2 linked regions of the Homo sapiens genome follow. The protein of the gene in region 2 purifies or fractionates together with the protein of the main gene of each other region. This does not show direct contact. Each region holds a gene or a part of one and is shown on either strand. Other genes may lie near its edges.

Evidence for each region.
Region 1: the proteins of PPM1D (region 2) and NTPCR purify together in Homo sapiens (affinity purification with mass spectrometry; one large-scale study listed by BioGRID and IntAct). This does not show direct contact.

Annotation. Positions count from the first base shown.
Region 1 is NC_000001.11:232,967,555-232,971,375, forward strand, and holds part of NTPCR (cancer-related nucleoside-triphosphatase), read left to right. Parts: intron 1-2,354; coding exon 2,355-2,564; intron 2,565-3,821. UniProt on the Homo sapiens protein: Has nucleotide phosphatase activity towards ATP, GTP, CTP, TTP and UTP. Hydrolyzes nucleoside diphosphates with lower efficiency.
Region 2 is NC_000017.11:60,620,439-60,624,259, reverse strand, and holds part of PPM1D (protein phosphatase 1D), read right to left. Parts: intron 740-3,821; coding exon 511-739; intron 1-510. UniProt on the Homo sapiens protein: Involved in the negative regulation of p53 expression. Required for the relief of p53-dependent checkpoint mediated cell cycle arrest.

The sequences.
Region 1 (3,821 bases), on a different chromosome or scaffold from region 2:
GGTGAATGTTCTAGAGGATTGCAGGAAGGCTGGTTGTTGAAGAGCCACACACTTTCTACCTGTACGTGTGTATTTACACATGGCCACGTGCATTTTACTACCCTCATGTATATAGTCAAATAAATACATGTGCATGTGTACACACATTCTTTCATATCACTTCTTGTCTGATTTGGCACCTTCCAAAACTCATTTTGAGGTGCCAGAATAAGTTTTATTTTGGCTTTTAGATGACAGCCTCCAGAGGAATGGCATCCACAATTACTCTTCGTCTCTGGGGGCAGCAAAATGTCCACAGCACTTGGGAACAGTCGGGTCAGTTGGAGTGGCATGCCCCCAGGAAGACAGAAACCTTCTTGTACAGTTGTCTGTTTTTATTATCATAGACAGGTGGTTGATAGCTGTTTTATTTCTCCCAAATATGGCTTTCGTTTTGGAGGAAAAACTTGGAATAAGTAGTGACTTACTTCATAGATGCTCTGCCCTTCTCCCCGACCCCACCAGTGGAGGGTGACATTGCTCCTTCAGCTCCCCACTTCTCAGCTCTGGGACATCGGTGAGTTCCCCAGGAAGGATGCGGACGAGGACAACCATGTACCTGCCCTAAGTGGGGAGACCAGGCGTGTGTACAGATAAACTTAATAGAGAGGCAAAAATGAAGCATGTCAGAAACACAGAAGTGCGGAGATTGTTCAGACCTCTCTTGGGTGATTACAGTGGACTCCTTATTGATCTTTTAGCTAATAAAATGAATGGAAAAATATTTCATAAGTGTACAATATGCAGTAGGAAAATAGAGTACTGTTTACTTAAAAGTCTGAAAAACACTGCTGTACTGCTTCCGTGCAATCACAACTGGGGTTTAGACACCCACTATCTTATCTTGTCTATTCCAAAAGGAGTCTAACATTTGTTTCTGACTCCACAGCCAGCAGTCTTTCTAGCACAACTTGTGATCCTCCCTGGATTAGACTCTTTCGGCTGTGGGAGAAGATTCCCACCTCTGTGTGTGCCTTCGAAGGCCTTTAGGATCTGGGCCCGCAGCCCCGTCTGTCACTGGCTGCCCCTGGTTGCCACTGATCCCTACCACCAGCCACACTGTACCATATGCTGCTTTGGCTTTTGGAATTTGAACAAAATCTAGCTTAACTCAGACATGCCCTCTAGGACTATATTGCTGTCATCATTTAAGGAATCAGAACTGTAGTGAAGAATACTTTGTAAATCAGCTTTACATACAGTTTTCAAAATAATCATGTATACAAACATATATAAGGTGTATTTGTCATTCACCATTCATTGAAGTGTTTATTACATGTTCTGTTTTGTCCCTCCCAGGGAAGAATCAACCAAAGTCCTGTCAGCCTTCCCCAGGAAGGCTTTCTATAGAGGACATGTGTGTTAGTTATATGTTGCTATGGAACAAGTTATCTCAAAATTTAGCAGCTTAAAACAACAAACACATTATTGTACACAGTATCTGAGGATCAGGAATCCAGGTACAGCTTAGCTGGGGTTCTGAGGTTGCAGTCAAGCTGTTGGCTGGGGCTGTGGTCATCTGAGGCTTGCCTGGGAGGGCCCTGCCTCTAAGCTTGCTCATGTGGTTGCTGGCAGGTTCATTTCCTCTTGGCTGTTGGCATGAGGCCTCAGTGCCTCACCACGTGGACCTCACCGTCAGCTGCCTGAGTATCCTCACAGCATAGCACTTCTCTTCCCCCAGAGTGAGTGATTCGAGAGAGGGGATCCAAGACAGAGATCAAGCTTTATATTTATATACAACCAGAAAATAAGTGGCACCCAAATACCTCAGGCTTAAAAAAAGTGAGACAGCAAGCATGGGAGCCTTTGTTGATAATAATGGCCTCTTTTTTCCATTTTGAGCCATATGAGATTCCCTACGTGCTGGGGGGGAGATAACTGCTCTAGGTAGATGTTTGTGTATTTCATGATCTGGTCCATAAGCGTTGTTGGAAAAAAGTGAAAATTAAAAGGAAACAAGTCTTGGCTAAAGGGGAAAAAAAAGTAAGTACAATTGCATCCTTTAGATCTCAGATTCTCTTTCTCATGACTTTATTCCAATTTATGTCCGTTACTTCCTTGAACATCCCACTGGTGACAGGCATAGCTGCCAGCTTCCAAGAGTCCTAATGATTCCCAGCTCCTGGGACTCACCCTTGTGCAGTCCCCTCCCACACAGTACCAGCGGTGGTCTGTGGGATGCTGTCACTTTTTGAAATCCAGTAAAAAGGTTTCTGTCTTTTTTACCTCATTGGTGAGTGATTGGGGAGTGGGACCCATGGGCCCTTTGATTAATGTGACTCTGATGTCCCAGTGAAAGTCTTTGTCATTCTCAGGCCGACTGCAGCAGTGGCCCAGGGCAAAGAGTGTGCGTCATCGATGAGATTGGGAAGATGGAGCTCTTCAGTCAGCTTTTCATTCAAGCTGTTCGTCAGACGCTGTCTACCCCAGGGACTATAATCCTTGGCACAATCCCAGTTCCTAAAGGAAAGCCACTGGCTCTTGTAGAAGAAATCAGAAACAGAAAGGATGTGAAGGTGTTTAATGTGAGTACAGCCAGTCCTCCATAATCAGTGGAAATGGAGCAGATGATCTAAAATAGCAGATGGCTCTAAAATATCTCTTTGGTTTTGAGTTAACATTTTTTCCCTTCCATGCTGAAATGTAGGTGAGTCTAATTTTCTAGAAATGTATAGAACTTAAATTATACCTCTACTTGATGAAAAAACAAACTCGCTTATGGGGGGGCCTCCTGACGGTCCCAGTTGTTCTGGCTGCTTTTTTCTTCCATCTCCTCACCAGACACTAGGACCTCTCTGGCATCAGAATTGCCTGAGCTAAGGTGCTTGTTCTAAGCTTATCTCTTCTCAGATTGAAAGGCGCCAGGTTGGGATACAGAGGCAAATATTTTTTGTTTTGTTTTAAAGATTTCCCTTTTAAAGCTGACCCACTTGTGCTTGTGGGGAGAAGAGGCTGTGGATGTGTTGGGAGACACAGCTTCCAGGTGCTGAAGAGCAGCACCGTCCAGTTGAACTTCCCAGTAGTGAGGGAAATGTGCTCTCTGCATTGCTCAGAACAGTAGCGACTAGCCACATCTCGCTATTTATGTTTAATAAATTTAATCATATTTAAATTGAATTATTTATTTAATCACATAAATAATCAAATTTAAATTGAATTAAACATTTGGATTCTCAGTCACACTGGCCACATCTGAGGTGCTCTGTGGTCTCGTGTGGCTGCTACATTCACTAGTGCATCTGTAGGATGTGCCACTCAGTGTGAGGCTTGCAGAATGGCAGCATGGGCATCACCTGGGAGTGGGCCTTGCCCTGGTCCAAGGAGTCAAACTCTGGGGGATGGCCCCATGATCTGTTCTGGCAAGTTCTCATGTGGTTTTTAGGTCCCCCGCACTTTGAGAAGCACTGCTGTAGACCACATGTGAGAGATGAGGGGCTAGGGCTTGTTGACCAGTGGCAGCGTCTGAGCCAGTCGGAAGGGACTCATGGCATTGCTGGCACTTTGTCTAAATTCTTGCCTTTCTTTCCCTGTTGTCCCTCTGTTTTCCTCTCAGTCAGATATTGCTTCTCCCCAACCCCTACCCTTAGTTTCTTTGAGTCAGTGGTAGCTGTGCTCTTGGCTGAGCTCTGCTCACACACCTCACTCCCCACCCCCAGTTTAAAAGCTCCCTGGCCCTGCAAGTGCCAAGTGAACAAGTCAGGCAGGCAGGGCCACTCCTATCAGGGGGAGTGGAGAGTGAGTACCCGTGAGCACCTTCCTCATGATCATTTTAATCACTGAGT
Region 2 (3,821 bases):
TTTGAATCATAAAAATATAAAATTGAAATCAATTTCAGTTCCTAGTTTACAAATTACTTACACATTGAAACGCTAAGTTCAAACAAAGAAAACAATAACTGGAAAGGTTTGCAGTAAATCTGAAATCAATGAAAAAAGCTGAAGGTTAATTCTAACTTAATCTTTTTCCCCCAGCCAGATTCAAAGTGTTCTACTCTGGAACTCCAAGAGCTGCTCCGTCTAGATTCTGAAAGTCATCTGAAAGGTTTTCAGTAAAACCTTGAATTGTTTCCTTGGGGCTCACTGAAATATTATTTCCTATTAGAGTCATTATCAGAAATAAAAGTCAATTCATAGTAATGAGAAAAATATGAACATACATACATGAGTATTACATCAGACAAACTAAAAAACCTGTAATACTAAGAAAGTAACTTCAGTAAAAGGGACAGTAGTAGGTCAATTTCATTAGTAAAGCATAAAAGGACTAAATAGAACCAAAAGAGGAAAGAGAAAACGACAGAATGTTACCTCCCACCAAGTCCTTCGATTCGTTCTCTTTCCTTGGGAAGTTCTGGCTTATGGTCCTGTGTCACCTCCACAGCTCTGACAAAGTCATCCTTCGGGTCATCCTGAATTCCAAGAACCACCCCTGAGTCACCTACGTGAGCTACATACATCTTCATGCCCCGAATGATGACCACACTGGCAGTTGTCCCTGATGTGCTAGGAAGACCCGTCATAGTCTTTGGCCATTCCGCTGTAATAAGAAATAAAATATTTCACTCTTGCAAGTATAAACATTAATACACTGTCAGGATACAAATGGCAACAAACTCTGAATTAGCATGTTAACATTCGAATTAGCACAGGAAACAATTTAAGAAAAATATTCTGAAAACTACTAAAGGACTTAGGTTAATTAATGAATACATTAATAAATTAATGTTATAAATAATGCAATTATGATACAACTATCAAACCAATCCTAAGAGAAATATATTACAGGACAGGTTTACTACTGCTACATGACTCTTAGTCCTAACTACATTGATAGGAAAGAATGTGTTAAGAGGTTTTTTTAATCTGAATCAGTTTTGATTCAAGAGTTGTGGTATCATTTAGCCAGCCACTTAGCATCTGTTTACTCATATCTCTTCTAAAAGGCTTTCTGAAAAAGCTACTTGTTTTTCTGTTTTGTTGTTTTTTAGATTGAGTCTTACTCTGTCACCCAGGCTGGAGTGCAACCTCTGCCTCCTGGGTTCAAGTGATTCTCCTGACTCAGCCTCTCGAGTAGCTGGTATTACAGGCGCCTGCCACCATCCCCAGCTAATTTTTGTATTTTTAGTAGAGATGGGGTTTCGCCATGTTGGTCAGGCTGGTCTCAAACTCCTGACCTTGGGTGATCCACCCGCTTCGGCCTCCCAAAGTGCTGGGATCATGGGCATGAGCCACCGCACTCGGCTTGATTTGTTTTTGAAATAACTATTTTGAATAGTCACTACTTAACAAATTACATTTACTGAGTATATTCACTGTATACCAAGTTCTATACTAAGAGCTTTACATGTATTATCTCAAATAATGCTTGTGACGAACTTATGAGACAGATATGATTATTCCCTTTATTTATTTACTTATTCCTCATTTTGCAGATAAGGATATCAATACTTTGAATAATTAAGAAACCTGCTTCAGATAACTCAAATATTTAGGGGCAGAATCCCTGTATATTAAATTACAAACCCTATACTGTTTAATTAAATTCACTGTCATTCAACAATTCTGAAGTATTATGTAACACTAAACAAACTGCAACTTATAGTTCATGATGGCAAAATGAGTCCAAACAATGACATATTCTCCCCACCAAAATCCCACTGAAAGGACAGAATGTAAATGTTAGAAATAAATCCACAACATATAGACACACACAGAAAGGTCATAGGCAAAGATGAAGAATTCCTGGAAGTTTAAAGGAATAGAATTATGTTAAGAAAAAAAATAAAAATGCAGACTTGTAATCCAACATAAGCAAAAAGAAAAATCAGTAATAAAGACAGTAAATGAGTGTTCCTTTTTTTTTTTTTTGAGACAGAGTCTCGCTCTGTCGTCCAGGCTGGAGAGCAGTGGCATGATCTCGGCTCACTGCAAGCTCCGCCTCCCAGGTTCACGCCATTCTTCTGCCTCAGCCTCCCAAATAGCTGGGACTACAGGCGCCTGCCACCACACCCAACTAATTTTTTTGTATTTTTTTAGTAGAGACGGGGTTTCACTGTGTTAGCCAGGATGGTCTCGATCTCCTGACCTCGTGATCTGCCCGCCTTGGCCTCCCAAAGTGTTGGGATTACAGGCGTGAGCCACCACGCCTGGCCGATAATTTTTTTTTTTTTTTGAGATAACTCTTAACACGCTGGGAGTGGTGGCTCACGCCTATAATCTCAGCACTTTAGGAGGCCAAAGTGGGCGGATCACGAGGTCAGGAGATCGAGACCATCCTGACTATGGTGAAACCCCGTTTCTACTAAAAATACAAAAAATTAGCTGGGCGTGGTGGCAGGTGCCCGTAGTCCCAGCTACTCTGGAGGCTGAGGCAAGAGAATGGCGTGAACCCGGGAGGCGGAGCTTGCAGTGAGCCGAGATTGCGCCACTGCAGTCCGCAGTCTGGCCTGGGCGACAGAGCGAGACTCCGTCTCAAAAAAAAAAAAAAAAAAAAATACAAAAAATAGCCAGGCATGTGTGCCTGTAGTCCCAGCTACTCAGGAGGCTGAGGTGGGAGAATCACTTGAACCCAGGAGGTGGAGGCTGCAGTGAGTGGAGATGGTGCCACTGCACTCCAGCCTGGCCAACAGAGTGAGATCCTGTCTCAAAACAACAAACAAACAAACAAACAAACAAAACTCTGAGGTAGGGATAGTCTTCAATAAATGGCACTGGAAAACCTGGATATCCACATGCAAAAGAATGAAATTGTACCCTTGTCTTATACCATACACAAAAATTAACTGGAAAGTGATTAAAAACTGAAATGTAAGAAATACATTGAAAGCATAACTCAGGCCGGATGCGGTGGCTCACACATGTAATCCCAGCACTTTGGGAGGCCAAGGTGGGTGGATTACCTGAGGTCAGGAGTTCGAGACCAACCTGGCCAACATGATGAAACCCCATCTCTACTGAAAATATAAAAATTAGCCAGATGTGGTGGTGTGCGCCTGTAATCCCAGCTACTCAGGCAGCTGAGGCAGGCAAATCGCTTGAACCTTGGAGGTGGAGGTTGCAGTGAGCCAAGATCGTGCCGCTGCACTCCAGCCTGGGCAACAGAGCGAGAATCTGCCTCAAAAAAAAAGAAAGAAAGAAAAGAAAAGAAAAACAAAAAGCACAAAACTCCTAGAAAAAAAACATAAGGAAAAATCTCGACGTTGGTCTTGGCAATTACTTTTTTAATATGACCACCAAAAGAAATGGCAACAGGCTGGGTGCAGTGGCTCATGCCTGTAATCCCAGCACTTTGGAAAGCCAAAGTGGGTGGACCATGAGGTCAGGAGTTCTAGACCAGCCTGACCAACATGGTGAAAGCCTGTCTCTACTAAAAATACAAAAATTAGCCAGGCATGGTAGCGCACACCTGTAATCCCAGCTCAGGAGGGATCCTAACCTCAGGAGGCAGAGATTGCAGCGAGCTGAGATCACGCCACTGCACTCCAGCCTGTGTAGTACAGCGAGACTCTGTCTCAAAAAAACAAACAAACAAACAAAAAAAACAGCAACAAAAGCAGAAAAAAACAGTTGGGCTACATCAAACTAAAAGGCTTCTGCACGGGAAAGGAAACCATCAACAA